Regions from separate parts of the Homo sapiens genome. Here region 1 is linked to region 2. The links come from fine-mapping of genetic effects on gene expression. A gene starts in region 2. The other region holds a variant in brackets. All regions are shown on one strand. Distances are from middle to middle. Region 1 overlaps FUBP3 (far upstream element binding protein 3). Region 2 holds the start of FUBP3 (far upstream element binding protein 3).

Region 1 (14,917 bases), 63 kb before region 2:
GAAGCGAAAAAGGAGATAAATCATAGATGATCTCTACAGATGCAGAAGAAAGTACTGAAACAATTCATTACCTATTCATGACAAAACTCTTGGCAAACTAGAAACAGAAGAAAACCTCCTTATCAGATAAACTGTATGCCAAACATACACTCTGAGGCTACAAACAAGACCAGAATGACAACTCTCATGGCTTTCAATCAACAAGATACTGAAGGTCTTGGCCAGAGTAGTCAAGCAATACAAAGAACAAATGGCATAAGGATTGGGAAGAAAAAAATAACACCATCATTATTCATAAATGATCTGACTGTGAAAACAGGAAATTCAAAAGAATCTACAACATTGTTAGGTTGTCAGTTCTTCCCAAATTGATCTATAGATTCATTGCAATCCCAGTAAAAATCCCAGCAAATTTAAAATATTTTTATGGGGGTTGGGAGATCGACAAGCTGATTCTAAAATTTGTATAGAAATGCAAAGGGCTGGGAGTAGCCAAGACAATCTTGAAGAACAACAAAGCTGAAGGACTTACTGTAAAGGTACAATAATTAAGACAGTTTTGTTGGGAGGCCGAGATGGGCGGATCACAAGGTCAGGAGATCAAGACCATCCTGGCTAACACGGTGAAACCCGGTCTCTACTAAAAATACAAAAAATTAGCCGGGCGTGGTGGCGGGCGCCTGTAGTCCCAGCAACTCAGGAGGCTAAGGCAGAAGAATAGCATGAACCCGGGGGGCGGAGCTTGCAGTGAGTCGAGATCGTGCCACTGCACTCCAGCCTGGGCGACAGAGCGAGACTCCATCTCAAAAAAATAAAAATTAAAATAAATAAATAAATAAATAAATAAATAAATAAAAATAATAATAATACAGCTTTGGCCAGGCGCGGTGACTCAAGCTTGTAATCAAAGCACTTCGGGAGGCCGAGGTGGATGGATCACGAGGTCAGGAGTTCGAGACCAACCAGTTTGAGACCAACCTGGCCAACCCCGTCTCTACTAAAAATACAAAAATTAGCGCATAGTGGTGGGCGCCTGTAATTCCAGCTACTCAGGATGCTCAGGCAAGAGAATTGCTTGAACCTGGGAGGCAAAGGTTGCACTGAGCCGAGATCATGCCACAGTACTCCAGCCTGGATGACAGAGAGAGACTCCCTCTCAAAAAAAAAAAAAAAAAAAAAAAAGGAAGGGAAAAAGAAAGTGCAGCATATAATGTACTTGAGTGCATGGTGTTTTTAAAAAACATTATGGTTACAAATTGTTTTTAAAAATGTTTAAGGCTGAGTGCAATGGCTCACGCCTGTAATCCCAGCACTTTAGGAGGCTGAGGCAGGCAGATCACCTGAGGTCAGGAGTTCGAGACCAGCCTGGCCAACTCTGCTAAAAATACAAAAATTAGCCGACGTGGTGGCACACACCTGTAGTCCCAGCTACTCGAGAGGCTCAGGTAGGAGAATCGCTTGAACCTGGAAGGCGGAGGTTGCAGTGAGCCGAGATCACACCACTGCAATCCAGCCTGAGCAACAGAGTGAGACTCTGTCTCAAAAAAAAAAAAAAAAGTTTAAATGCATTTAATATTTAACGTGTTTTATCGAAATGTGAATTAAACAACCATGAAATCCTTGACACCAACCTACCATAATTTGGAAACCACTTGTGTGGTCCAATTCCAAGGAAAGAAAACAGATCAAGAGAGCTGATCTATCCAAGTCACAGAAAGTCATCTGTCCAAGTTGGGAACAAAAGTGAGGCCTGTGGGTTCCCTTTGCCTGAAGGAAATTGTTGATCGTTCTCTCCCCTTGACTGAAGAAGTGGAGTTAGGGAAGAACCTTTCTTTTCTTTTCTTTCTTTTTTTTTTTTTGAGACGGAGTTTTGCTCTGTTGGCTGGAGTGCAGTGGCGCGATCCTGCTCACTGCAAGCTCTGCCTCCCAGGTTCACGCCATTCTCCTGCTTCAGCCTCCCAGTAGCTGGGACTACAGGCGCCTGCCACCATGCTCGGCTGATTTTTCATATTTTTAGTAGAGACGGGGCTTCACCATATTAGCCAGGATGGTCTCCAACTCCTGACCTCGTGATCCACCCGCCTCGGCCTACCAAAGTGCTGGGATTACAGGCATGAGCCACCGCGCCCGGCTTTTTTTTTTTTTTTTTTTTTGAGACGGAGTCTAGCTCTGTCACCCAGGCTGGAGTGCAGTGGTGCGATCTCGGCTCACTGCAGCCTCTGCCTCCTGGATTCAAGTGACTCTTTTGCCCAGACTCTCTCTAGTAGCTGGGATTACAGGTGCCTGCCACCATACCCTGCCCATTTTTTGTACTTTTGGTAGAGACAGGGTTTCACTATGTTGACCAGGCTGGTCTCAAACTCCTGACCTTGGGTAATCCACCCACCTTGGCCTCCCAAAGTGCTGGGATTACAGGCAAGAGCCACTGCACCCGGCTTTTTTTGGCTTGTTTGTTGAGACAGGGTCTTGCTCTGTCACCCAGGCTGGAGTGCAGTGGCATGATTACAGCTTACTGCAGCCTCGACTTCCTGGACTCAAGGGATCCTCTCACCTTGGCCTCCCAAGTAGTTGGGACTACAGGCATGCGCCATCATGCCTGGCTAATTAGAATTTTTTTTTTTTTTTTGTAGAGGTGGGGTCTCACTCCGTTGCCCAGGCTGGCCTCAAACTCCTGGCTCAAGCGATCCTCCCGCCTCGGTCTCCCAAAGTGCTGAGATTACAGATGTGAGCCACTGCACCAGGCCGGTTGCCAGTTTTTGAGTGCCCATTAAGAACCAGGTGTGAAGCGCTTTACTTGTGTGCCATTGACTCCTATCATAGCCCCACAGGCGGGCAGGTGGCTGCTAGCCCCACACTTAGGATACCAGAGGTTAGGTCATATGAGGTGCAGGCAGGACTCAGACCCAAGTTTAAGTGTCCACACATTCATGCCTCACACCCTGCTGCCTTAGGTAGGCTGAACTCGCCAGGCCCCACTAGAACCACGTGAGGCATTCCTTGCACATGTGCCTGGCTCTGCTCGTGTGTGGGTGTGGCAAGGCAGGCCGGTATCGCAGCCAGGCTAAGGTTTGAGGAGGCCTCAGCAAGAGTGTAGCTCTCCACTGAAACCCCAGCAGAGTGGAGCACGAACTTGCCATGGAACTGGCCCCTCCGTGCCTGTGTGAGTAAGGACAGTTTCCAGCCTCTCTGAGCCCTCATCTGTAAAATGGGGAGCATAGTCCTGGTTACCTCTCAGGTCACATGTGCACAACCATGGTATGACTCTGATCAGAACCTATTTAAACCTGTTTCCTTGGCCGAGCGCGGTGGCTCACGCCTGTAATCCCCGCACTTTGGGAGGCCGAGGCGGGTGGATCATGAGGTCAGGAGTTCGAGACCAGCCTGGCCAACATGGTGAAACCCTGTCTCTACTAAAAATACAAAAATTAGCTGGGTGTGGTGGCGGGCACCTGTAATCCCAGCTACTCAGGAGGCTGAGGCAGGAGAATTGCTTGAACCCGGGAGGCGGAGGCTGCAGTGAGCCGAGATCATGTCACTGCAGTCCAGCCTGGGTGACAGAGCAAGACTCCATCTCAGAAAAAACAAACAGACAAGCAAAACCCTATTTCCTCATCTCCAAAATGGGATAAGAGTCGGATTTTCCTTATAGGAAAGTAAGAGCCAGTGGATTCTAGTTGTTCATGGTAGTGATATATAAAGTCTCTGCAAATACTGAATCATCAAATACTAAACCCTTGTTCCTAAGGGAAATACAAGGCAAGGTTCCTGCAAGCCAGTGTCCACACCAATCTATAGATAATCTTTTTTATTTTATTTTGTTTTATTTTATTATTATTATTATTATTTTTTCAGACGGAATCTCGCTCTGTTGCCCAGGCTGGAGTGCAGTGGTGCAGTCTCGGCTCACTGCAACCTCTGTCTCCCAGGTTCAAGCAATTCTCCTGCCTCAGCCTCCCGAGTAGCTGGGATTACAGGCGTGCACCACCATACCCAGCTAATTTTTGTCTTTTTAGTAGAGACGGGATTTCACCATGTTGGCCAGGCTGGTCTCGAATTCCTGATCTCAGACAACCTGCCCACCTCGGTCTCCCAAAGTGCTGGATTACAGGCATGAGCCACTGCGCCCAGCCCCTTTTTTATTTTTTTAAGAGATGGGGTCTTGCTGTGTTGCTCAGGCTGGAATGCAGTGGCTATTCCCAGGCACGGACATAGCTCACTGCAGCCTCGAACTCCTGGGCTCAAGTGATCCTCCTCCCTCAGCCTCCCTAGTAGCTGGAACTACAGGCATGCATCAGCACTCCATAATCTTGTTTTATGTGTGTTTCTGTTTAAAGACCCCTCATTGGCCGGGCACGGTGGCTCACGCCTGTAATCCCAGCTGTTTGGGAGGCCCAGATGGGTGGATCATTTGAGGTCAGGAGTTTGAAACCAGTCTGACCACGCTGAAACCCCATCTCTACTAAAAATACAAAGAAATTAGCTAGGCATGTTGGTGGGCGCCTGTAATCCCAGCTACTCGGGAGTCTGAGGCAGGAGAATTGCTTGAACCTGGGAGGCGGAGGTTACAGTCAGCCGAGATCGTGCCACTGCACTCCAGCCTGGGTGACAGAGCAAGACTCCATCTCAACAAATAAATAAACAAAAATAAAAAATAAATAAAAATAAATACTCCTTACTTAATATGTATATTGTTCACCTATTAACATTGAACTCGTGGCCAACAGCCGTGTAACTCAGGCCTGCAAGAGGCAGAACGCATATATTGTCTCCATCAGCTACACCTCAGCCTTCCTATGCTTAGGAATGCTAGATGGCCCTTTAGTGCCATGCTTGGGGGCCACTTTAGACAGTAAAACTGTCAAAAAAGAAAAAAAAAAGGCACAAAATGCAAAAACTGTGGCACTAAGTAGACTGCAAGGAAAAGTGCTTATTTATGACACGAGAGCTGAAACCAGAAGGCAGAGCGCCGCCTTTTCCACCTCAGCTGGGAACACGTGCATCCGGTAACTCACGTTTTTCACCGTGAATGACCCGCAGATGCTCTGTGGGGGTAGATTTGGGGGTTGCAAATACGTTTCAGTGAGTAGGTGAATTTGCAAATACGGAATTGAAAATGATGAATGACTGTAGTGCACTTCCAGGGCTGGCCAAGTTGGTACTCAACCCTAACTTTCAAGATCTTCTCCCATCCTGCCAACCATCTCCCTTGGTGGTGACTACAAAAGACAGTGCGCCCCCAGGAGGCGGTGGTCACGCTCTCCTCTGAAGCCCCAGACGGAGTGCAGCATAGAACCTGGCACAGAACTGGCCCCTCCATGCCCGTGTGAATAAAGGCAGGTCTCAGCCTTTGACTCTGAGCCCTCTTCTGTGAAATGGGGAGATTAGGCCTTTCTACCTCCCAGGGTGCAGAGACCACCTTGGAAGCAGGTACCTGGAAAGGGCCAGGACCCCCTTGGTAGATGCTACAGAAACACCTTCAAGACAAAGGACAGCCAAGATGACCATTGTTTCAAGGGCAGTGAGGGTTGTCTTTGCTTCCCCTTCCACCCTACCCAAGACACAGACCCAGGGCCTGCAGCCCCCTGCGGAATTGAGTGTCAAGCCACTTTCTGGCCATTAATCTCTAAGCATCTATCAGGCCCATTTGCTTCAGCCCATCTTAAAAAACCCCAGCTGGGCCCTAGTGGACCAGAAGTGGGGCTGGGAGAGAGTGGGGCTGTAGCCAGCTAGAAGCTGCGGCTCTGGGGTGACCCACGTTCTCATGGACCAGGCACTGCACTGTGCCATCTGTGCCCCAGCCGACCCTACCTTGGGGGCTCTGGGACATCATGGGTGGTCACCACTGTCGAGTGACCCTGGAAAGATGGTGCCTCCTATCTGATGGGAGGCCAGGGGTACTGATTGAGGCCCGCTGGCTGAGAACTCCTCAACCCCAGCCCAAACTTCTGGGTGGGGCTGGGATCGGCTCAGCAGGGTCCTTGATGGATCCTGAACTTGGGAGGCTGGCAGAGACCCAGTAGGCATGGGCGGTGGCGGGTGGGGGTGGGGCATGCATTCAGAAGACAGACTGGGCAAGCGCCCGCCCCGCCTCCCGGACCCCGACCGCCCTTACAGTGATGACCATGCATCTTTCTTAATGGAACACAACCGCTGAACTTGGTACATTTCAAGCACTTTAGCCTCCAGTACACCAGACTGCTGATGAAAATCATCTTCCTTGGGCGCCATGTTAATGAGAGGCCAAATTTCATATGCTTGCAAACTTTCCCCCCCCGCCTCCTGTCGTACCACACCCCCTCCCCCCAATAAAAGATTGCATCAGAGAGAAAGAGAGATTTCCATAATTTATAGTATGGGCATTTCACTGGGGACAAGCGCTAATCTGTACTTACCGATACATTTAAGAAAATGCATCCTCCGCAAGCCTGCGCCATTTATGACTCTTGGCACAAACCACAATGCTCAGTCTTCAATTAAGGGACACCTTAGGGTTCATTATCACACAATCGCTCCCTGTGAACCATGCCAAATGCTGTTTTGGCACAGAGCTTGGAAGATGAATTAGAAGGAAGTCTTCTCTGTAATGCCCTCTCCCGAATTCCCATTACCGTCATCAGCGTTTACGCCCTCCTCCCACTCGGCCCCCTCCCCCCACTTTCCAAGTGCCTTTTACTATTCAATTTCTCAACGTCAAACTCGATTCTCTAGAGGTGCAGTTAAAAATGCCACATCTCCTTTTTGTCTTCCGGCTCTCAACAGGCCTGCCATGGCCGCAGATGGGCTGCTCTCCACACCCCTTTTCGGCCTGAAGGAGCCACAGCTGCTTTTTTCCCCTCCTGTCAGAAGCTTGGAGTACAGACAAGGGGCCGGTATTGGCCAGGCACAGCCCAGCAAGCCCCGTTCAGGATGGAAACAGGTCTCTATATCTAAGTAGAGACCCGCACAGAAAGCCTGAGGGCGAAGGCAGGGCCCCTCAGACGTGAAAGCAGACACTGCTCAATGCCAGTCACCCCAACCAACGGGACAGAAGGAAAAAAAAAGGCGAGGGCTGATGCTATTACTTAATGCCCTTCCAAGTCTGAGGCCCACACTGTCGCCACGAGTCCTAAGACCACAGGACTGTAACTTAACACCTCTGGGGAAGGACGCCCCATTTGTTTCTTCATGAAAGGACAGGACATAACGAGCACGTGTGCTGATGCTTCCCAGCCCTCCTGGCGATCTGGTGTCCCACCGTGGGCACGGGGCTAAGAGCGAGAAAGCACCACCACCACAGCCACAGGTGAGGCTGGGGACAAGGAGGTGGGGGATGCAGGCAGCAACAGTCAGGGAAGCACACCGCGCCTAGGGCAGCCCACCTACATTTGCAGGCGAATGTGTGTGCATGGGCACGCAGGGAAGGGGAGCGGGCGGAGGGCAAGGGGCTGCCCAGTCAGTCGCAGAAGTCTGCTGACCCGCCGCACGCCCTTCAATGCATCTCCCAGCTCCATCCGATGACACTCCCATACTGACTTCTCACTTACAGATGCCTGACTGTGACAGGGAAGGGGAGCTGAGCCCAACCACGGCTCTCAAGTCAAGCTGTCAAATCATACAGAGCCATTAACATAAAATTAGCTTAACGAACTAGCTAGACATCTAGACTGTGCACCAACGAAGGCGGGTGGACGCGGTGCAAGATGACGGGCGAGGCCCGCAGGAATCCTCTTTCCCTCTCGGGCGGCCGCGGGCAGGGGCAGAGGGATGAACCGGCGAATGGAAAGCAAACAGGCCAGAAAGACTTTGCCCACAAGATGCCTTGTGGAGATTTTATTATATAGAGTGTAAAATGAATTGTCAGTCAAATAAAAAGAACACTTTGTTTTCTTAAAAACCCCATGCATAACATTTTCCAATTGTCTTTTTTAATAGTTAGACATTTCAAGCATTATAAGAAAAATAAGGAGAAAAAACCAGAAACTGTAACTTCAGTACATTTCAAACGGAATGTCCCTCAGGTCAATTAGAAATGCAAGAAAAAATAGCTTCAATTCCGTTTTTTTTCCTTTAAAAATACATGTTATCTGTACAAGATACACTACAGTAAACACTGGAAATCATATTATCCCTTTCATTAAATCAAAATTATTTAATTCATAATGCGGTTAATACTAGATTTATTTATTCATCTAGTTAATCTGACAAAATATTAAGAAAATATTTAAAAGAAAAAAGCAAACAACACCTTGGAATTAAAAATAGTTATAACTACATTTTTATACGGTTTAATGTTCCACAGTGTGTGTTAAAAGTTATATTGAATTTCTTAATATTAAAAATAACAGTATTTATATTTCTGAGATAATAGAGAAAGGTTTTTTGTTTTGTTTTAAAAACAAGCTTGGAGGTCTTAGATACACAATTGCAACTGGTAATGGAGGCATGAGAAAAACGTAGGCTAAACACACGAGCACATTTTTATATTACCCCTTTCGAACTCTAGAAATTATACAAACCCTACAAAATGCCCCTCCCAACCCCTGTTGGACAGCAATACAATTATCTGTCTCAGTTCAGAATTCACATCATTCATTACAATACATAATAGTTCAGTTTTTTTAAAAATGCAATAAAACCAGACAGCCAAGATACAAGAAATTAGAAGTAAAACATTAAATGAATTTACACATTTAAGAATACTTAAATACTGCTTTAAAATTTTTAAAAAGAATTTGTTACATACCACCTAAGACTTCCAAGCCACTTTCTGTTGCAACAGAAAAAACTGCAAATAAAAAGGACACAAAACCAAACCAAACCAAAACCATCATGTTGAAATGTCACAGCTCTGAGGCACATTCTGGTGCCTGACTTTGTAGGTATTGCTCCAAAAAGAATCCCAGAGCTTATACATTTGAAATAACAAAAATAATGAAACAAAAATGATCAGCAATTTTTAGTAACTAATTTTCCTGATTTTTAGAAAAATTCCGTTAATCTAAATATAGTGTTTCACAGAACAAAACAACAGTTCTTCATCAAAAGGTTTGCAAATGTAAAAACCTCTGTTACAAATAGGTTTTCTTTGACAATGATTTTGAGGGGAGAGTTGGCCACGAGGACGCTGTCCTACTGCTCCTGTGGGCGGAAGGGAAGAGGAATTAGTCTGTGATGGCAGGTTCTCAGGTCTGTGTGCCAGTGACCTCCCCCAGGTCTCGCGTCACGGGAGCTGGGCCAGACAAAACCTCTGCTGAAGAGGTCTTGGGCTTCTCTCTCCACTAGGGACTTGGGGCAGGGAAGAGCGGACAGTGGGAGCCACGCTTCTCCTCCATCACCACCAGCCCTGACACCTGTTTCCCCAGGACCAGACCCAGACGGCCAATTTGGCAGTGAGAGGCCCAACCAGCTGAGTCCAGGGCCAGGAGGTAACTGAAATGTTATCCATGAGGACCTGACTGGCATCAGGTGGGAAATGCGCCCTGTGGGAACATTTGGACGTCTTCCCTTCTTTAATAAGAAATCCGTTTTTGGCCTCTGAACAGAACCCTCTAGGTTGTGCACAGGAGAGGAAAGCTGGGCTCTGCCCCCCTGCCCTCTCACTGCTTCCTGCTGCTGCCCGGGCATGGCTGACGGCCTGGCCACTCCACCCTCCTCGAGAGCAGTCGCCGGAGCGCACCCTCTGCACTTGCTCCTTTACGGTTAGGGAAACTGAGGCTTAGAGGAAGAGAGAGACTACTAATCAGCCCTGAGGTCTGGGGCCTGGACTTGAGGAAAGTTCAGGCACTTCCTTGTAGGGGCTGCGCCCCCAATCCTCCCACTTGGCCTAAACTCTTTTTCTCCAGAGCGAGGAGGGACAGAGGGGCTGGAGCCGGGCTCTCAGCAGAAGCAGCCTCGCTGAGGAGCTATGGCGCCCAGAGGTTCCTCCTAGCCCAGCGCTCTCATCCTGGGGTCAGGAAACACAGAAGGCTTGGGAGCAGGGGCTCGGGGCTAGGGAGTGGCAGCGGTGCTGGTGATCAGCTACAGACCTGGCTGTGGGCCTGCGCCTGCCCTAACGTCTGTCCGTAGAAAGCGACCTGCTGTCTGTAATATTCTGCCCAGGCCATTGTGTAGTCCGGTGGGGAGCTGGCCTGAGGAGCAGCGCTGGCGGCGTGACCTGGTTGACAAAGGAGGAAACACAGGTTATCGGGAGCGGAGGTGCACTGGGCAGGACCCTTCCCAAAGGCCCTGGGCATCTGCTCTCCCTCCGGACGGCTGGAAGGCAGGGAGGTCTGGGAGGCAGTGAGGTGAGGCTGGTGTTGCAGGAGCGCTTGCTACAAAAGGTGCTGTTAGCCTCTTGTTGCCCGGCCCCTGCTATGCCTGTGAAGACCAATCCTCACGCCTGCCTTCTCTCTGCGGAAGCGCATTCTCTGCATCTCCCTGCCTGCCCCTTCAGCTCCCAGGGCCCTGTGACAGACAGAGAAGGGGGGATCCTGGGGTGGGGGTGGGGGAGAAGGGGAGTACCTAACTTGGGTGCCTGTGATAGTGTCCAAATCCTGTGAACAGCTTCAACACAGGCCCAGGGGTCTGGGAATTGGGATTTGGGGAAGACTGGGCAGCTGAGCTTACAGCACTCTGGTGACCATGACTCAACACCCCCACCTCCAACCCCTAGAAGGGCCATGAACCTGGCGATGATGCCAACACCAGGGGGACCACTTCTCTGGTAGCCTTCAACCCGATCTCTTCCAACCAGCAAGAAACATCCTCCAAACACAAGGCACGTGAGATACCTCTTTAAACAAGCCCTCAGTCCTCCGGTCTAGTAATCGTGGGATATATCCCGAGAGTCTGGTCCTGATTTTATGTGACTCCCCAGAGACCTTTTGCTTGTTGGGTCCCTCGCCCTGCTCTGAAGGCTGGTTTCATTTCTGGTAGTTAGAAAACGGGCCTACTTAAGAAGAGAAACTAAGCACCCAGCTCCAATGCCCAGGTAAGGCCTCCTTCCCTGAATCTCACCACCTCTCCTCATCTGCCCTGAAGCACCAAGACAGAGAACAAGATGTCTGGTTGGTCTGTTTGCCGGCCAGGTGGCACCCAGCCGGAATCTTTCAGTCCCTAAGGAGACCAGACGCCAGCTGAGCCCACACTTCCAGGTGCCACGCCCACCTCAAGTCCTTTGGAGCCCAGCACGGGGAGAATAAAGAGGAGGGGATGTGCCGAGTCGCAGGGCAGCCTGTGGTCACTGACTGACTATGCCCAGACTCCTGACAGAAAGAAGCAGGCAGGTACAGGGTGGAGGACGAAGGCAAATAATGAGATCAAGCCACACAGGGAAGGCATTAGGGAAAAAAGAGGTGACAGTGAGCCTTGGACTCTGAAGTCTCTGGGCTGGAGGGGACTGTGCTGCCACAGGTTAGGAGGGCCGGGCACTCACTCTGTTTTTTGTAATAGTCTTCCCAGGCCTTGCTGTAGTTGGGCTGGCTGCTCTGCGGCTGGCTCTGCTGGCCTGTGCGAAGAACACAAAAGCAGTCAGGCCTT[A/G]CGGGCTCCTCACAGCCTCGGCCCCAGCCCGCCAGCTGCAGGCCCTGCCCTGCACTCCTCCACCTCGCTCCTGGCCACACACGGCTCCGCAGCCCTGCCTGGGAAGGAGGTGGCAGCTGGCAGGGCTGGGGGAAGGGGTGTAACTAAGATCACTGTAAGGGTGGGGCTGGGCACACGAGGCAACTAGCAAGGCTAGCCTGACCCTCTTCAGATGGAGACGCAAGCTTGACGGCCACAGCCACTGCTGTTCTGAGGCTCCCCAATCAGCCTTCCAAAGGACAAAGACTCCAGAGGCTGCTGACCACTCTCTTCGCGTGGCCCTCTGTTCAAGGCCTGGGGGCTGTGCCTCTGGACCAAGGGAAGTGGAGGGGCCATGTGGAGCAGGGGTAGGCAGCACCAGTGGGCTCCTGGACCCTGTCCAGCCTCAGGCCAGCTGGGGTAGGGCAGAGGGAAAGGGGGTGCATGTGTTTGGGTGGTCCAGCCCTTCTCTTCTGTGCAGGACCCTGGGTTCACCCTCTAGGCTATGTGGGCAGTGAAGACTGGGGGACGCGGAGAAACAGCCAGCATGGGGGAACAGAGCCTCAGCACCCTGCCAGGCACAAGAGGGGGTTCAAAGACTTGACCACAGTGGCGGGTCAGGACCTCTCCTTCTGCCCAGGCCGGGGCTGGCTCAGGTGTCCACCTGCCAAGGCCCACAAAAGACCCCCTCACTGTCTCGTCTCCTGTAAGGATTGTAGCCTGAAGCAGGGAGGAAGGGCAAACCACTGCAGAGAGCATGCAGCCAAATGCTTTCTCCACTAGTTCACTTTACTGCATACTGAGGAGCAGCGTGGGGAAGAAGCAAGCAGCGGGAGGAAGGAGGGAAGGAGACGCCCCGCTTCCTCCCACAGGGGCAGGGCGAAAGAGGGACACAGGCAGCAAACACTCTTCCCTCGGACGCGGAGGGCGCCGGCAAGCAGGACTTCGCCGCCAAACAGTATTTCACCAACCCAAACCGGTTCTCCACTGCAAAACCCCTGAATAAACAAAAAAAGCCAAGCTCCACAACATGAGATGAAGGCTGCCCAATGGCGGCAAGACCACCGGGTGCCTCCTGCACTCTCCCTTCCTCAGCCCACAGGCCTCTGCCCGTTCCACCCGCCAGGGGGCCGTTTCCCCTGAAGGCCTCCCAGGCCTCAGTGTCCCCAGAGTCAATCCTGGCCACCTTGCTGCCTGGAGGATTATCTCAGACTAGAACAGCAGGTGAGGAGCCGAGGAAAGGAAACAGGGTTAGCCCCTATGGCCAAGCGAGCAGAGGGAAAGGGGATGGATGGTGGGATCTGGGTGCCTTGTGGGTGCTCACTGCAGAGTGTTCTAAGATATTTGAAACGTTTCATAATAAGATACTGGGGAAAAAAAGGGAAGAAACACAACTATACAATTTCAGAGCATGCAAGTACTTTAGAATTCAAACCCAAACCCTTGATTTTACATGTGGCAAAGTGGAGCTCCAGAGAAGGCAGGGCGTGCCTAAGGCCACACAGCACTGGCCTCAGGACTCTGTGTAAGGCTGAAGTGGCAGAACCCCAGAAAGGGGGCTCAGGCCCTCCGAGCCAGGCTGTGAGGCGGGGCCTGCGGCCTGGGTGCTGTGGGAATCTGCAGACACTGAAGAAGCCTTTCTAAACACAGGACAGAAACTCCAGATGGGTCAAAAGAACGTGGATCGTACTAAGGTAAGGGTTCTGCTTTGCTTTGTGAAGGCCATGCCAGAGGGGCTAGACCAGCTCTGAAACCCAACAGTGGTTCCTGAAGCGTCTGTGGGGACAGAGAGGGTGGCGGCTTTGATTCCCACCAGGACTTTCTCCTTCACAACCAGCCTCCCTGGAGAGGCGGGATGCAGAAGAAGTCATTCCCTAGCTGTTTGCTTCTGAAAAGTTCAGGAGATGGAAGCCTGAGAGGGGAGAGGAAGGCAGCCACCCAAGGCAGGGGCAGGGAGTTGGAGGGCCAGGAACCAGCCCCTCAAGGGGTGGAGAAGAGGAGGAGCAGAAGCTGGCTCAACCCATCCCCACCCATGCATAGGGAACGAAAGTGACAGAGGCCCAGAACTCTGAGGACAGGTGGGCCAAGAGAGGGCCAGCCCAGAGTCCCCAGCCCGCCTGAGGTTTGTGCAGTTTCCCTTGGGGCCTTTTTCTGAGCATGCACAACCCCTGGTACAGGCCTGCAGGAGGGCCCAAGCCCCACCCAGAGGGCTCCTTGTCATTTGGGGAGGGGCATCCTGGGCCTGCTGGCTGAGTTGAACGAGGGCGTTTTGGCCCCAGGACTTCTGTGGGCCGCAACCTTTCTGGAGGGCATGCACTCCCCGCCCCGAGTCACTTACTTGGGACCTGCTGTGTGGGCTGCTGCCACGCCTGGTAGGTGCTGCCCCAGCCCTGGGTCAGAAAGGCCGGAGGACCACTGTGGATAACAAGAGGGTCACTCGTTCCTATAGGGGGCAAGTCACCCCTGTCGTCTCCCTCTTCACTGCTCACCTCCCTCACCCCAGCCAAGCATCACCGGACCCTTGCCTGTCGGCAATAGCCAAGTGACCACCTTAGTGCCGTCTGTCCCCAACTGAGTCACAGCAGGTCACCTACCTCACAGGGGTGCTGTGGGGGTTCCCATTCACCTTGGCAGCCATGTTTGGGAAGCACCCGGAGCTCCTTGGAGGAAAGGTACTGGGAAAAGGTAAAAGAAACAACAGACTGAGCGCCTCACAACAGAGGGCTCGTCCCCTCCCCGCAGCCCCAGGGCACTGAGGGGGCAGTCGGGACAGAAGACCCTCTGCCCTCTGAGAGGCTCCCACCCCATCGCTGAGGTCAGTGAGTGATAGGCCGGAGGGACCGCTGGTGAGAGGAAAAGAAACGAGTCCTGCCCACGCCCAGAACTTCAGGCCTTGGCTGGCACTCGCTAGAAGTAGCTGGAAACGACAGGGGATCTCTGGGGAGCGAGTGAATTCTCCCAGGCAAGACTGATGCAAAAGACTCACTTTTGATGAGGTGGGGCAGGTGGCTGGCTGAATGGACTCTGTCCGAAGGCTCCAGGTGCTCCGAGATTGGTCCCCTGTGGGGGCACAGAGGGAGCTCTCACCCGCTGTTGGTTGCACACCTCTTTCCTCTGCCCAGGCCCACCCCGAGGCAAAGCCCAGCTTTTGGGGAGATGGAGTCGAGTGAAGTAAGGACACCTACGCACTCACACTAGCCTTCCTTCCCACAGCAGGCTGCGCTGCAGAAATGGCTTCTGCCCTCCAGCGACCAATACCACCACACAGCCAGTCCTGGCACCACCACAACTGCCCTGGCATCACCCTGGGGGTAGGGACCAACCTGCTTGACTCTCCCGTCAACTTAGGCTGGCCCAAGGCTCTTTCTGCCATTCTACGTCCCCATTGAGGTGAGCAGTGGCC
Region 2 (14,691 bases):
CCAGACTTGGATCTACTCATCCAGAGGTCCCCTTGTAACCTAGGCAGACAGTCAGTATAGAAGTGCAGAGGACGGCTGTGGAACAGGATGAACTACTCAGGATTTTGTCTTATCTGAACTAGTTGAAGAAACACTACTTCTGCTAACCAGCCAATGACTTGGGAAAAGTAGACAGATGTTTTTTAATATCCAGCAGTTTTTAGATCTTCATCCATGGAACTGAATGAGATCACATTTCTTTCTTTTTCTTTTTCTTTTTTTTTTTTTGAGACAGTGTCTCACTCTGTCACTCAGGCTGGAATGCAGCGGAGCAATCACAGCTCACTGCAGCCTTGATCTCCATGCTCAAGCTAGCCTCTTGCTTCAGCCTCCCAAACAGCTGAGACTGCAGGGGTGGGCCACCACATCCAGCTAATTTTTTTAATTTTTAGTAGAGACAAGGTCTCGCTATGTTGCCCAGGCTGGTATCAAACCCCTGAGCTCAAGCCATCCTCCTACCTCAGCCTCCCAAAGTGCTGAGATTACAAGCATGAGCCACTGTGACTTGCCCAGATCACATTTCTACTACCCTATAGAATGGATGTAAATTACCTGCTTGTGCCAAACATTAACTCACTAGACTTCACACTGCTGGAGAAAATGTTTACATTTTATTTGACATCTTCAGAGACTTCTTTTCAATCTAAGAATACCATGCTCAGAGTAAACTAACAACTGATGCACTTTGCTGCAGAGTCCAAAGGATATACACGGAGGCTTCAAGATGTCAGAGGGAAAGCCTAGTTGATAAGGTGTTGGACTTCACACACCAAACTTAATAGAAACTGCAGGTTCAAATCCCAGCAGGGTCAACTGAGAGTATTACGATCTGCTAGAAAAACTGAGCGTGAGACACTTTACTGCTCTTTGACAAATTTAAGAGGGCCTTCCAGACTGTCTCTGGAGTTTATGAGGAGACATAAAAGGGGAAAAAGCTTTGCGTTTAAATAAATATACTGTCTTTTAGTTCTGTTTAATGGGGAGAAAAATCACATCTCTGTAACATGCTGTGTATATAACAAAGAAACAGAACTATCACCTTCCAGATACCCAAATGAGATCCTTACAGTAAGTTTACCATCAGCATACAGTATTACAGATTTCTAACATTCCGTTCTTGCCCAATGCAAATCTATATACAATAAACCTAAAATTACCCACCAACCTGGTTTTTCTTTAGTTTTTAAAGGCCATCAAATCCTTGGAGATAGTATGGACCTCCAGCTGTTAACATTCAGAAGGAACACACTTACAGCCCTGTCTCCATTGGGCTTATTACTGCTCCAGTCAATGGTGCATTTCAGAGCTGAGAACAATTCCAATGAAGTTTTCACTGCTAGTAGTAAACACCACTGCTTCAACAATCCACATTAGGTCAGCATTTACCAGAGGGTCTCCCTCTGGAGCAGGTTGTCCAAGAATATGAGTTCAACCACTGGCTCAAGAGAAGCGGAATGTCTTCTCAATGGTTCAAAATTCACTTTATGTTCAACTACAGGCCTTCTGCAAACTGAGGATCTGAGCCCTTTAGGGCAGTGACTATAATTCTTCCCGGACATAGAAGGCCAACAAGGTGACTGTCACACATCAGCACAGAGCGAAAGCCATTACATATTAGTAGCCAGTGAGAAACAAGGTTCAGGACCCTGTACTGTAGAGGAGAGCACTGTAACACGCCAGCAAGCAGAGTGGTGGAAGGGGAGCTGGGTGGCATGTTCATCCATTACAGCCATGGGTGGATCTGAAGTCTAAGTAAGATGGATACTCACTACTGTACTGGTTGGCAGCTAGGCAGTAAAGTAACAATTCATCAGATAAAATTTTAGGTGGAACCACAGGTTTGGAAAGTTCTGGGATCCAATATAATGTCTATAGGAGCATCAATATATAACATGAAAAGTCAGTTATCAGGGAAACAGGTAGGGTTCCCTCCCCTGGAATACTGGAAAGAGATGTAAAGACCATATCTTCAAGCGCCCGAGTGAAGACCTTCTTCTAATACAATGACTCCTGTGGCTTTCTGTTAGGAATCAAGCAGTAATTAGTTATAGCCCAACTTTTAAAGTATCAGTGCGCTTACAATTACATAAGAAGAGAGGAGGACATAAGACACTTAACCGAGGAAGCTGAAGTGTTAGGGCTGACTTGTAAGTAAGTTTTAGATACAAATGAAGAACACGTTCTGTTCTAAGTACCATGCCAGAAGCCAGTAAGTATTTTTGGCAGGTCCCATATTCACTCTCTGGGGAAGCCTGGAGCCTTCTAAAACCCAGTTAATTTAACTTTGATTAAATGCACGACATTGTCAGACAGTAAAGTTTCAATGTCGGAATGAGGCCATATCATTCTCCCCAGTAGAGGCAAGCTTGCCATGAGAAATTTCTACATCTTGGGGACCACCCCCACACATGTAACACCTCCCTCTCTCACCTCTCCAAAGAGCACCCTCACATATAAGATGCCCTCGAGTTCCTTCTACTCAACAGAAAGTCTAAAGACGATGTTCCCCAAGTTTTAACAAGCTACTGGGCGTCAGACAGCTGCTTTATGTCTACACCCAGATCCTCCCCGTGGGCTTCCCGGACCCCTCCCCTCGCGAGGTTCAGAACCCCGCGCTAGCTACACTGTGGGTCCAGGCTGGCCGCTGGGGCACGATGGGGCCAGACGCTCTAAGCAAACCCTTTCCCAGCGACTTCAGGCACCTGGGAGACCCGCCCGACAGGCCGGGCCTGGGCCTCGCAGTGGCGCCTTATCCCCCCGGCTCCTCCCGGCTGTAGGAACTCCACGGAACGGCCCGGCCCGGCTGAGACGTCGGTTCAGGCTGCCTCCCGCCCCCCAGGCCCGAACCCCTCTTCCCCGCCCGCCAGGCCCCGCCTCGGGATCTCGTGCTCCTGCCAGCCGGCTGCGCCCGTACCTGCCGGACCCGGTGCAGGGCATCCACGAAGCCCTCGGCCTTCATCCCCACAGGAGCGCTCTGCCCCTGCACCAGCTCCGCCATTACCGCCCCCGCCGCCGTCGCCGCCGCCGCCGACGCCGCCGACGCCGCCGCTCGGCTCCCCGGTCCGGCCTCCCGCTCCGCTTGGGGACCCGTAGCCGGAAAAGGAAAGTCGCCCTACTTCCGGCGGAAGGGAAAGCCGGGACGCTCGCAGCTGGAGGAGTCGCGTCTGCGGGGCGGGGTCAGGGCACGTGACCTTCGACCGATCGGAAGTGGGGGCGGGACGGCAGCGCCGGGGTGGGCTCAGATCGCCAGGCAGCCGTGGGTCTCCAGGGTCCGGTCGCGACCCTTCCCTTCCCGGGCGGGATTTGGTCCAGGACCGTCGATGGCGTCTTGACAGGTCCCCGAGGCTTGGATGTGGTCCCGAGGTGTCCGCTGTCGGCCGTTTGGAATCTCAGAGGGACTGACGTGGCTCTCCCAAGACGGCACCCCGAACAGTCGTGGTTCATCAAAAGCCTGGTCCTGGGTAGCCCCTCCCTGAAATGGCTGTTGGTTGGGAATTTGGGGGCTGAGCGCTTTGAAAGGGCATTGGGACAGCATCACAGAATGTCAGTGTCCCACATTTGCGAGGAGTCCCGGGCCCCAGTTCTTACACTGCAGTTTGCATGAGGATGGGCCACCGCCACTTCCGCCTGGGGTTGTCTGGTGATGCCCCCAGGAGAGACGCGCCCACTGAAAAGCCAGCGTGGTGTCCTCTTACACGGTCCTTAACAAACTCTGGGACTCTGGGGGTGCAGGAAATACCACAGGACCGTCATTACTCCCATACCGGCTGAGTCACAACTGTATTGCAGGAGGCTTCTTGGAACGCCTATGTAACTTTAATGGAAGTGACCAGGTACAGATCTTCTACAGCAAGGAAGGAATCTTAGTGCTAGAATTCAGTTGAGCCTTTGAGTTGGCTCTTCTTATAAGTGAGCAAACAAGTAACAAGGTTTAGGGGGCGCCCATTTTTGTGTTAGCACGATTGCCCTCGTGTTTAATATTTCCCAAGCCCTATTATGATAAGGAGTTGGACTTAATGAAGAACCATGTTGTCAAACATCTTATGCCCATCTTGAAGTTGTGAAGGAGGATGAGCACCAAGAAAAGGAAATAAATAAAATCCAATACGGGCCGGGTGCGGTAGCTCACGCCTGTAATCTTAGCAGTTTGGGAGGCCAAGGCAGGCAGAACTCTTGAGCCCAGAAATTCAAGACCAGCCTAGGCAGCATAGTGAGACCCCGTCTCTACAAAAAATATAATTAGCTGGGCGTGGTGGCAAACACCTGTAGTCCCAGCTACTTGGGAGGCTGGAGTGGGAGGATCACCTGAGCCCTGGAGGTCAAGGCTGCAGTGAGCTATGATCACGCCACTGCAGTACAGCGTGGGTGACAGAGCAAGACCCTTTCTTGGGGAAAAAAGTCCCATATAACTTTCCTTGATGACCCCACCCTCACCCCTCACTGTGTCATTATGCCAAGAGAGCTTTGGGCATTCTAAAGAAGTATGAGGAATACTTGACCAATAACCAAAGTATAGTTATTTATTTGTTAATGACTTCTTTCCTAGACTGTGAGTTACTTTAGAGCAGAGACTTATTTTTCCCTGTATCCCTAGGGTGTGGCACATAGTAGGTGCTTAGTAAACTTATTTTGCATTCAATAATGCCAAGTAGAATAATTCATAGATTATGGCAAAATAAAAGAATTTGGCAAAATTGCAAGATTGAAGATTGCTTTCAGAAAAAATGTTCCAACCCCTGTTCAAAAGTACATAGCTTGCTGTGTTGTTGAAGTGCCAGCACGAGGAGGACCATGCCAACACATCCATTTATTGCCCATTCTGGGTGTGTTGAGCGTTTTAAGTTTGCTATGCTTGTAAAAATCAAGGAATGGCAATGGTATCAACTTTCATGAACACAGTCGTTCAGCTGAACCAAGTATCAGTGATAACTTCTGTTTTGAATTTTAGAAATATATCTCTGAGGTTAGAATGTTGATTCATGCATATTCCAGCTGGCTTTCCCTATGAGTATAAATAGGGAAAACAAGGCTATTGGCCCAAATGTAAGTTGTATTCCAAGGTTTGGTCCAAAGACCAGAGAATCCCTAAGTAGGAAGACAGTTTTGTTTTCCCCTCTTTTACTGGTTAACTTTGAGCAGGTCACTTATATTTGGGGGCACAGAAGATGAAGATGACCCTGAGCTTGTCATGTTCACTGTTAATTGTTCTACTAACACCCTAGACTTCATCATCTTGTTATAGCACTTATCACAGTTGCTTTTAAATCATCATGCAGTTATATGTTTATTGTCTGCCTTTTCCACTAGAATAAAGCCTCTGCTGACATAAGGTCTATGTTTGTCTTGTTAATTGCTCTCCCTACCACCTAGCACCAATGCCTGGCATTTGGTTGGCTCTCAGTATTTGTGAAATGAATGAATGAGATGATCTTGTCCAAAGAAGACAGGGAAAGATTCTTAGAGGTTAAAAAAGAAAAATTCGGCCGGGTGTGGTGGCTCACACCTGTAATCCCAGCACTTTGGGAGGCCGAGGCGGGCAGATTACCCGATGTCAGGAGTTCAAGACCAGCCTGACCAACATGGTGAAACCCCATCTCTACTAAAAATACAAAAAGTAGCAAGGCGTGTGGAGGGCACCTGTAATCCCAGCTACTTGGGAGGCTGAGACAGGAGAATCGCTTGAACCCAGGAGGCGGAGGTTGCAGTGAGCTGAGAATGTGCCATTGCACTCCAGCCTGGGCAAGAAGAGCAAAACCTTGTCTCGAAAAAAAAAAAAAAAAAAGCCGGGTGCAGTGGCTCACAGGCGGATCACCTGAGGTCAGGAGTTGAAGACCAGCCTGGTCAACATAGTGAAACCCTGTCTCTACAAAAAAATACACACACACAAAATTAGCCAGGCTTGGTAGCGGGTGCCTGTAATCCCAGCTACTCGGGAGGCTGAGGTGGGAGAATCACTTGAACCTGGGAGGTGGAGGTTGCAGTGAGCCGAGATCGTGCCACTGCACTCCAGCCTGGGCAACAGAGCAAGACTCAGTCTAAAAAAAAAAAAAAGAAAAGAAAAATCCACATACTGTGGTTGTGACTAGTTTTGCAAACCATTCCTATTGATAACATTGCAATGCCTCTAGATATTACCAACTAGAAGCCACGCTAAAATGAAACTGTATCAATGAGGAGAGTCTAGGTTATGCTACAGTAACAAGCCTTAAAACCTCAGTAGCTTACAACAATACAGGTTATTTCTCACTGGATACATGAACATGGTGTTGCCTCCACTACGTGTCCTGTTTACTCTTCAGCCAAGGCTGATAGCAGCCTCTGTCTGGAACATTAAACTTTATCAGGGCAGAGGAAGAAGCGAGTGACAAAGCACGAACTGGTTTTTAAAGCTTCTTCCTCAAATGCTAGGCACTACTTTTGTTCATGTTTTATTGGTTGAAGAATGTTTGCCTGTTGTCAATAAGATGCAGAAGTATGAAGCATACATTGGCTTTTAAAGCTTTTGCCTAGAAGTTGGTGGCATATGGCACTTCTGCTCACATTTAATTGGCCAAAGCAAGCCGTGGCCAAGCACTGATCAAGTGGCAGAGAAATATAGTCCATCTCCAGGGAGAAACAGCAAATATGTTTGAATAGTAACATGATTTTTCAAATACATCAAGAGAAAAAAATAAGCATGGAGAATGTTGTACAGTAGATTTTAAAGGATATAACATGGGTGGTTTCCAGAATTCGTTAACTACCCTAAAGACCCTCAGCATCTGGTCATTTGTAATTTGGGGAAGCTTTGCCTTGCCATCCCAAGATCTGCGTTGTTTATATCTCTGAGGCAGAAATAGCTTATAGCGATAAATCGTGAGTGAGAGAATTCTCCATTTAGAGATTTTCACAGGTCCCCAGAGCAGACCTTTTCCAATGTCAAGTGTCCACTGGAATTTCAAGTGCAGACTAAGGAGCATGTCAGCATGAAATCTGAAAATTTAAAAATAGAATTATTAAGACTCTCCAACACTGACTGAGGGATACAGGCATGCCTTGGAGCAATAGGAGTGATCCAATGATTGGAATAGTTCTCTTTGTCTTAGCATCTGAGAGTAAATTAGAATCTACCTTTAATAGGGAATGCATATGTATATGTATATATGTAATTGTCACTTAGTGATGGGACTATGTTCTGAGAAATGGATCATGATGTGAACATCTCAAAGCATACTTACACAAACCAAGATAGTATAGCCTACTACAACACCTAGGCTATATGGGGTAGGCTATTGCTCCTAGGTCACAAACCTGTACAGCATGGTACTATATGGACTACTGTAGGCAGTTGTAACACAGTGGTAGGTATTCATGTATCTAAACATAGAAAAGATACAGTAAAAATACAGTGTTATAATCTTTTTTTTTTTTTTTTTAGACCGAGTCTTGCTCTGTCTTCCAGGCTGGAGCGCAGTGGCATGATTGTGGCTCGCTGCAACCTCCACCTCCCGGCTTCAAGCAATTGTCTCTACCTCAGCCTCCCAGGTAGCTGGGATTACAGGCGCCCACCACCACACCCAGCTAATTTTTGTATTTGTAATACAGATGGGGTTTCGCCATGTTGGCCAGGCTAGTCTTGAACTCCTAACCTCAGGTGATCCACGCTCCTCAGCCTCCCAAAGTGCTGGGATTACAGGTGTGAGCCACCAAGCTCGGCCCAGTGTTATAATTTCATGGAACCACCGTCAAATATGCTGTCCATTGTTGACAGGAAAGTGACTGTATATCTCCCCGATTCCACCTTTGGCCTCGTACCACCCTGCTGGTACCATAGAGTAGTGCTACACTCTCAAGTAAGTTCAAAGAAACTTAGTAAATTTGGCTAGTAAATTTTTTGGTACCACACTTTTCCAAAACAATCTATTCGGCCTTCACACTTTAAAAAAAAACGTTATTTTTTAATAGAGACAGGGCCTTACTATGTTGCCCAGGCTGGTCTTGAACTCCTGGGCTCAGGCAATCCTTCTGTCTTGGCCTCCCAAAGTGCTGGGATTATAGGCATGAGCCAACTCAGCTGGCCCCTCAAAATTAATGATGTAGCTAGTTATAGAGCTCTGGATTGTAAATAATTCTCCTTTAGAAGACCGAAGGCATCTCTTATTGTCTTCTAGCATCTCATATACATATATACATATATATACATACATATATATACACATACATATATTTTTTTCTTTTTTTTTTTTTTTTTGATATTGAGTCTCACTCTGTCACCCAGGCTGGAGTGCAGTGGTGCAATCTTGGCACACTGCAACCTCCTCCTTCTGGGTTCAAATGATTCTACTACCTCAGCCTCCCAAGTAGCTAAGATTACAGGCATGCACCACGATGCATGGCTGATTTTTGTATTTTTAGTAGAGACGGGGTTTTGCCATGTTGGCCAGGCTGGTCTCCAACCCCTGACCTCAGATGATCCACCCACCTTAGCCTCCCAAAGTGCTAGGATTACAGGCATGAGCCACCTCGCCTGGCTCCAATATTTCTTTAAACAGTTTTATTGCTGGGCGTGGTGGCTCACGCCTGTAATCCCAGCACTTTGGGAGGCCAAGGAGGGAAGATCCCTTGAGCTCAGGAGTTTGAGACCAGCCTGGGCAACATCGTGAGACCCTGTCTCTAAAAAACAAAACAAAACAAACAGAAACAACAAAGTGCTTGTACCATTTTTCAGTTTTTTTCATTCTTGTAAGCAACATGTGAACATTCCAGTTTTCCAGTTTCTTTACCTACTTGACAACATTTGAGTCTGGTCAGCATTTTAAACTTTAGCCTTTTTTTTTTTTTTTTTTTTTGAGACGGGGTCTCGTTCTGTCACCCAGGCTGGAGTGCAGTGGCGCAATCTTGGCTCACTACAACCTCCGCCTCCTGGGTTCAAGCGATTCGTCTGCCTCAGCCTCCTGAGTAGCTAGGACTACAGGCGTGTGCCACCATGCCCGGCTAATTTTTGTATTTTTAGTAGAGACGAGGTTTCACCATGTTGGCCAGGCTGGTCCCGAACTCCTGACCTCGTGACCTGCCCACCTCGGCCTCCCAAAGTGCTGGGATTACAGGCGTGAGCTACCACGCCTGGCCAACTTTAGCCATTCTAATAGGTGTGTTGTAGCATCTCATTGTGGTTTGAAGTTCATTTATTTATTTATTATTTATTTATTTTTCCAAGACAGAGTTTCACTCTTGTTGCCAAGGCTGGAGTGCAATGGCAAAATCTCAGCTCACTGCAACCTCTGCATCCCAGGTTCGCACAGTTCTCCTACCTCGGCCTCCCAAGTAGCTGGGATTACAGGCACGTGCCACCACGCCTGGCTAATTTTGTGTGTGTGTGTATTTTTTTGTAGAGACAGGGTTTCACCAGGTTGATCAGGCTGATCTCGAACTCCTGACCTCAGGTGATCCACCTGCCTCGGCCTCCCAAAGTGCTTGGATTATAGGCGTGAGCCACCGCACCTGGCCTGAATTTGCATTTAATTAATAACTAATGAAGTTGAATATCTTTTTCTATGCTTATTTGCCATTTGATATTTTGTTTTGCTTTGGTTTCAGCAAACAACTCTGCTAATTTATTTGCCATTTGTAGATGTTCTCTGATGAACTGTCTGTTCAAAAGTTTTGCCCATTTTAGAAGTTGGGTTTTTAAAAAATTTGGGGACGTTGAAGGTTCTTTATATACTGTATACAAGTCTTTTATAAAATACATGATTTGCAAATATTTTCTTTCAGTCTGTGGCTTGTCTTTCTGTTATTTTGTCTTTTGAATAGAAGAAGTTCTTCATTTCAATGATGCCCAATTTATCAATGTTTTGTTCTATGGATTGTACTTTTGGTATCTTATCTAATAAGAGAACTGTCTAGCCTAAGGTCACAAAGATTTTCTCCTATGTTTTCTTCTAGAAGTTTTATAGTTTTAGGTTTTACATTTAGGCCTATGATCCATTTTGAGTTAAGTTTTGCATCAAGTGTGAGGTACGGGTCAAGATTCTTTGTTGTTGTTGTTGTTGTTTTGAGACAGGGTCTTGCTCTGTTGTCCAGGCTGGAGTGCAGTGGCACAAACATGGCTCACTGCAGCCTCAATCTCTGGGGCTCAAGCAATCCTCCCATCTCAGCCTACCCAGTAGCTGGGAGTACAGGCATGCACCACTACACCTGGCTATTTTTTTTTTTCTTTTTTTAGTAGAAATGAGGTCTCACCATCTTGCCCAGGCTGGTCTTGAACTCCTGAGTTCAAGCAGTCCTCCCGCCTCAGCCTCCCAAAGTGCTGGGATTACAGGCATGAGCCACCACACCTGGCTTCATTTTGTTATCATAAGGGTGTCTGATTGTTTCAGTACCAATTGTAAAAGGGACTATTCTTTCTTCATTGAATTGCCTTTGTACCTTCATTTAAAAAAAAAATGAATTAGCCACAAACGTGTAGGTCTATTTCTGGACTCTCTATACTGTTCCATTGACATATGTAGCTATCTTTTCCCCAACACCATACTGTCTTGATTACTGTAGCTTTACAGTAAATCTTAAAATCAGGTAGTGTAAGTCCTTCAACTTTGTTCTTCTTTTTCAAAATTGTTTTGGCTACTCAAGTTCCTTTGTCTTAGCAAATAAATTTTAGAATTATCTTGTTGATATCTTAAAAAAAAAAAAAATCTAGGCCGGGTGTGGTGGCTCACGCCTGTAATCCCAGCACTTTGGGAGGCTGAGGCAGGTGGATCACCTGAGGTCAGGGGTTCGAGACCAGCTTGGCCAACCAACATGGCGAAACTCCATCTCTACTAAAAATACAAAAATTAGCAGATCGTGGTGGGGTGAGCCTGTAATCCCAGCTACCTCGGACGCCGAGGCAGGAGAATCGCTTGAACCTGGGAGGCGGAGGTTGCAGTGAGCCGAGATCACACCACTGCACTCCAGCCTGGGCGACAGAGCGAGACTTGTTCTCTAAAATAAATAAATAAATAAATAAATATCTGTTGGGATTTTGATTGAAATCATGAATCTATAGATCAATTTGGAGAAAACTGACATCTTAACAATAGTGTGTCTTCCAATCTATTAACATTATATATCACTCTATTAATTTTGGTCTTTAATTTCTGGCCCAGTGTTTTATAGTTTTTAGTGTACAGATCCTGCACATATTTTGTTGGATTTATACCTAAATATTTCATGGCTTTTGGTGCTGTTGTAAATGATATGTTTTAACATTTTGATTTTCAATTATTTATTACTGATGTACAGAAATTAATTGTTTTGTTTTTGGTTTTGAGACAGAGTCTCGCTCTGTCACCCAGCCTGGAGTGCAGTAGTGCAAACACAGCTCACGATAGCCTCAACCTCCCCGGCTCAAGTAATCCTCCCATCTCAGCTTCCGGAGTGGCTGGGACTACAGCCCCATGTCACCATGCAATGGTTAGTTTTTTATTTTTTAGTAGAGACAGGGTCTCACTATATTGCCCATCAAACTCATGGGCTCAACCAATTATCCTGCTTGAGCCTCCTAAAATGCTGGATTATAGGCATGAGCCACCACACCCAGCCTAATTGCTTTTTAGATAGAACTTTTATCCCTAAAACTTGCTAAACTCACTTATTAGTTCTAGTAGCCTTTTTGGGTCGATTTCCTGAATTTTTTTCTTTTTTTGAGATGGAGTTTCGCTCTTGTCACCGAGGCTGGAGTGCAGTGGCGCCATCTTGGCTCACTGCAGCCTCCTGGGTTTAAGCGATTCTCCCGCCTCTGCTTGCCAAGTAGCTGGGATTACAGGCGCCTGCCACCACACCCAGCTAATTTTTGTATTTTTAGTAGAGATGGGGTTTCACCATGTTATCCAGGCTTGTCTCGAACTCCTGACCTCAAACCATCTGCCCGCCTCGGCCTCCCAAAGTGCTGGGATTACAGGAGTGAGCCACCTCACCCAGCCTTTTTTTTTTTTTTTGACACAGGTCTCACTGTCGCCCAGGCTGGAGTGCAGTGATGTGGACACAGCTCACTGCAGCCTTGGCATCCTGAGCTCAGGAAATCCCCCTCCCACCTCATCCTCCTGAGTAGCTGGAAGCACAGGTGCACGCCACCATGCTCAGCTAATTTTTTAAATTTCGGTAGCAATAAAGTCTCGCCATGTTTTCCAGCCTGGTCTCAAACTCCTGGGCTCAAGTGTCTTTCGCCTCGGCCTCCCAAAGTGCTAGGATTACAGGTGTGAGTCATCACGTCCGGCCTGCAAAGATTCTTGGCTTCTGCTCTGCTTTATGGCTACTCTGCCATCCAATTTGTGATTTGTGCCTTCTAGGATTGTTTTTTTTTTTTTTGAGATAGAGTCTCGCTCCGTTGCCCAGGCTGGAGTGAAGTCATGTGATCTCAGCTCACTGCACTCTCTGCCTCCCAGGTTCAAGGGATTCTCCAGCCTCAGCTTCCTGAGTAGCTGGGATTACAGGCACCTGCCACAGTTCCCGGCTAACTTTTGTACTTTCAGTAGAGACGGGGTTTCAACATGTTGGCCAGGCTGGTCTCGAACTCTCAACCTCAAGTGATCCACTCGCCTTGGTCTCTCAAAGTGCTGGGATTACAGGCATGAGCCACTGCACCCGGCATAGAAAATTTTTTTTTTTTTTTTTTGAGACGGAGTCTCGCTATGTCCCCCAGGCTGGAGTGCAGTAGCGCGATCTCTGCTCACTGCAAGCTCTGCCTCCCGGGTTCACGCCGTTATCCTGCCTCAGCCTCCCGAGTAGCTGGGACTACAGGCGCCCGCCACCACGCCTGGCTAATTTTTGGTATTTTTAGTAGAGATGGGGTTTCACCGTGTTAGCCAGGATGGTCTCGATCTCCTGACCTCGTGATCCACCTGCCTCGGCCTCCCAAAGTGCTGGGATTACAGGTGTGAGCCACCGCGCCCGGCCAGAAATTGTTTTTTAATAATGTTTTTTCATAGAGATGAGGGTCTTACCATGTTGCCTGGGCTGGTCTTGAATTCCTGAGCTCAAGTGATCCTCCTGCCTTGGCCTCCAAAAGTGCTGGGATTATAGGCGTGAGTCACGTATCTGTATTAGTACTTCTTGTCAGCTGTTGTTCTCCCTCCCATGCACTTTAATACTGTAGTTTTTTGTTTGTTTGTTTGTTTGAAATGGAGTCGCCCTGTGTCCCAGGCTGGAGTGCAGTGACCCAATCTCGGCTCGCAGCCTCTGCCTCCCTGGTTCAAGCAATTCTCCTGCCTCAGCCTCCCGAGTAGCTGGGATTATAGGTGTGTACCACCATGCCCAGCTAACTTTTGTATATTTTTAGTGGAGACAGGGTTTCACCACGTTGGCGAGGCTGGTTTCAAACTCCTGACCTCAAGTGATCTGCCTGCCTTGGCCTCCCAAAATGCTGGGATAAGAGGTGTGAGCCACCGTGCCTGGCTGATACTGTAGCTTTTAAACCTTTAATATTTTTACTTTCATTTTTAATATTTTGTTTTCCCCTCATCCTTGTGATTGCCTGGAGATACTTTCATTGTAATGAGGTCTTTACACAGAAGAGTTACTCACATATATTTAACTGGCTATTATAAATAGGATCAATTCTGACCATATGATATGGCCTGATTTTCTACCTTAGGCCTCTAGGTGGTCTCTCAAATCTACCCTCAAAAAGTCTGAGAACATTCATCTATACCTTTATTGCAGCAAGTAATGGTGGTGGCTGACAGGTGTCTCAGGCGGGGTTTTGCCTGTGAATACAAAGCTCACTGGCTTGTGGGAAAAACTCAGCCAAAGAAACCCTTGCAAGATTGGGTATATCCCCTTCAGATCGACCAGCCCCAGCTATTGTATTTTGGTTTTGTTTTGTGTATGATCTGGGAGACTTTTCACTTTGGATTGTGAGAAACTTGTTCAAGCATGACATTTGTCAAAAACTGGCTGCATATTAAATGCCACGAAGCATACAGAAATGATTACTAAATATTTCATGCAAAATATGTATTGATAGCCAGGTGTGGTGGTGCGCACCTGTAATCCCAGCTACTTGGGAGGCTGAGGTGGGAGGATCGCTTCAGCCCAGGAGGTGGAGGTTGCAGAGAGCCAAGATCACGCCACTGCACTCCAGCCTGGCCAACAGAGCCAGCCCCTTTTTCGAAACAAACAAACAAATAAACAAACACACACACACGTACTGAACACTTACTATGAGGCAGCCCCTGCTAGACTGGATGTTACAAGATGTCAGAGGTCATTTCTGGTGTGCTTAGCACAACAGTCTCCGTCCTGGTAGACATATATTAGATGCTTAGTGAATGTAGACAAAAACAAATCATGTGTGAATGAATTTACCACGTTCTGAGGCTAAAAAGATGAAAACAATGTCATGTTTTGAACATTTCTTCTCTTTGAGCTTCTGCTTGCGTGTTTATTCCATAATGCCTGCTTGCTAAATAGCTTGTACGTGCCAAACCCCACTATCTTAAATTACTACTCTCATTCTCTTGACTACCAGGCCCCTGGTGGAATCGTACAAAAAGTATCCTTCATTTTCCAGTTCCCAGACTTCATTCCTACCTAGATTTCCCCATTCAGAATTCCAGATGGGTCTGGGGACACATCAGGGTTGGATTATTCATTCTGGGAAGGCAGGAGGTCATCTGGCTTTCGGGGTTACAG

Evidence for each region.
Region 1: its variant is fine-mapped to the expression of FUBP3 in tibial nerve (GTEx, PIP 0.96).

What each region holds. Positions count from the first base shown.
Region 1 is chr9:130,631,214-130,646,130 of GRCh38, reverse strand. FUBP3 (far upstream element binding protein 3) reads right to left here. Exons shown (of 19, transcript NM_003934.2): 14 at 14,501-14,574; 15 at 14,109-14,189; 16 at 13,853-13,929; 17 at 11,393-11,464; 18 at 10,005-10,132; 19 at 7,779-9,117. The coding sequence ends at 9,109. Among named protein-coding and RNA genes, the nearest start is that of MIR6856, 12 kb to the right of the region's middle. RefSeq lists enhancers at 7,284-7,879, 13,171-13,921. The variant A/G (reference allele first, on the strand shown) is at 11,497.
Region 2 is chr9:130,568,027-130,582,717 of GRCh38, reverse strand. FUBP3 (far upstream element binding protein 3) reads right to left here and starts at 3,141. Exons shown (of 19, transcript NM_003934.2): 1 at 2,954-3,141. The coding sequence starts at 3,037. It overlaps LOC100272217 (a long non-coding RNA gene), which reads left to right and starts at 3,224. Exons shown (of 1, transcript NR_027440.1): 1 at 3,224-5,368. It overlaps LOC124902286 (a long non-coding RNA gene), which reads right to left and starts at 2,878. Exons shown (of 2, transcript XR_007061818.1): 1 at 2,470-2,878; 2 at 632-2,059. RefSeq lists a silencer at 2,824-3,193.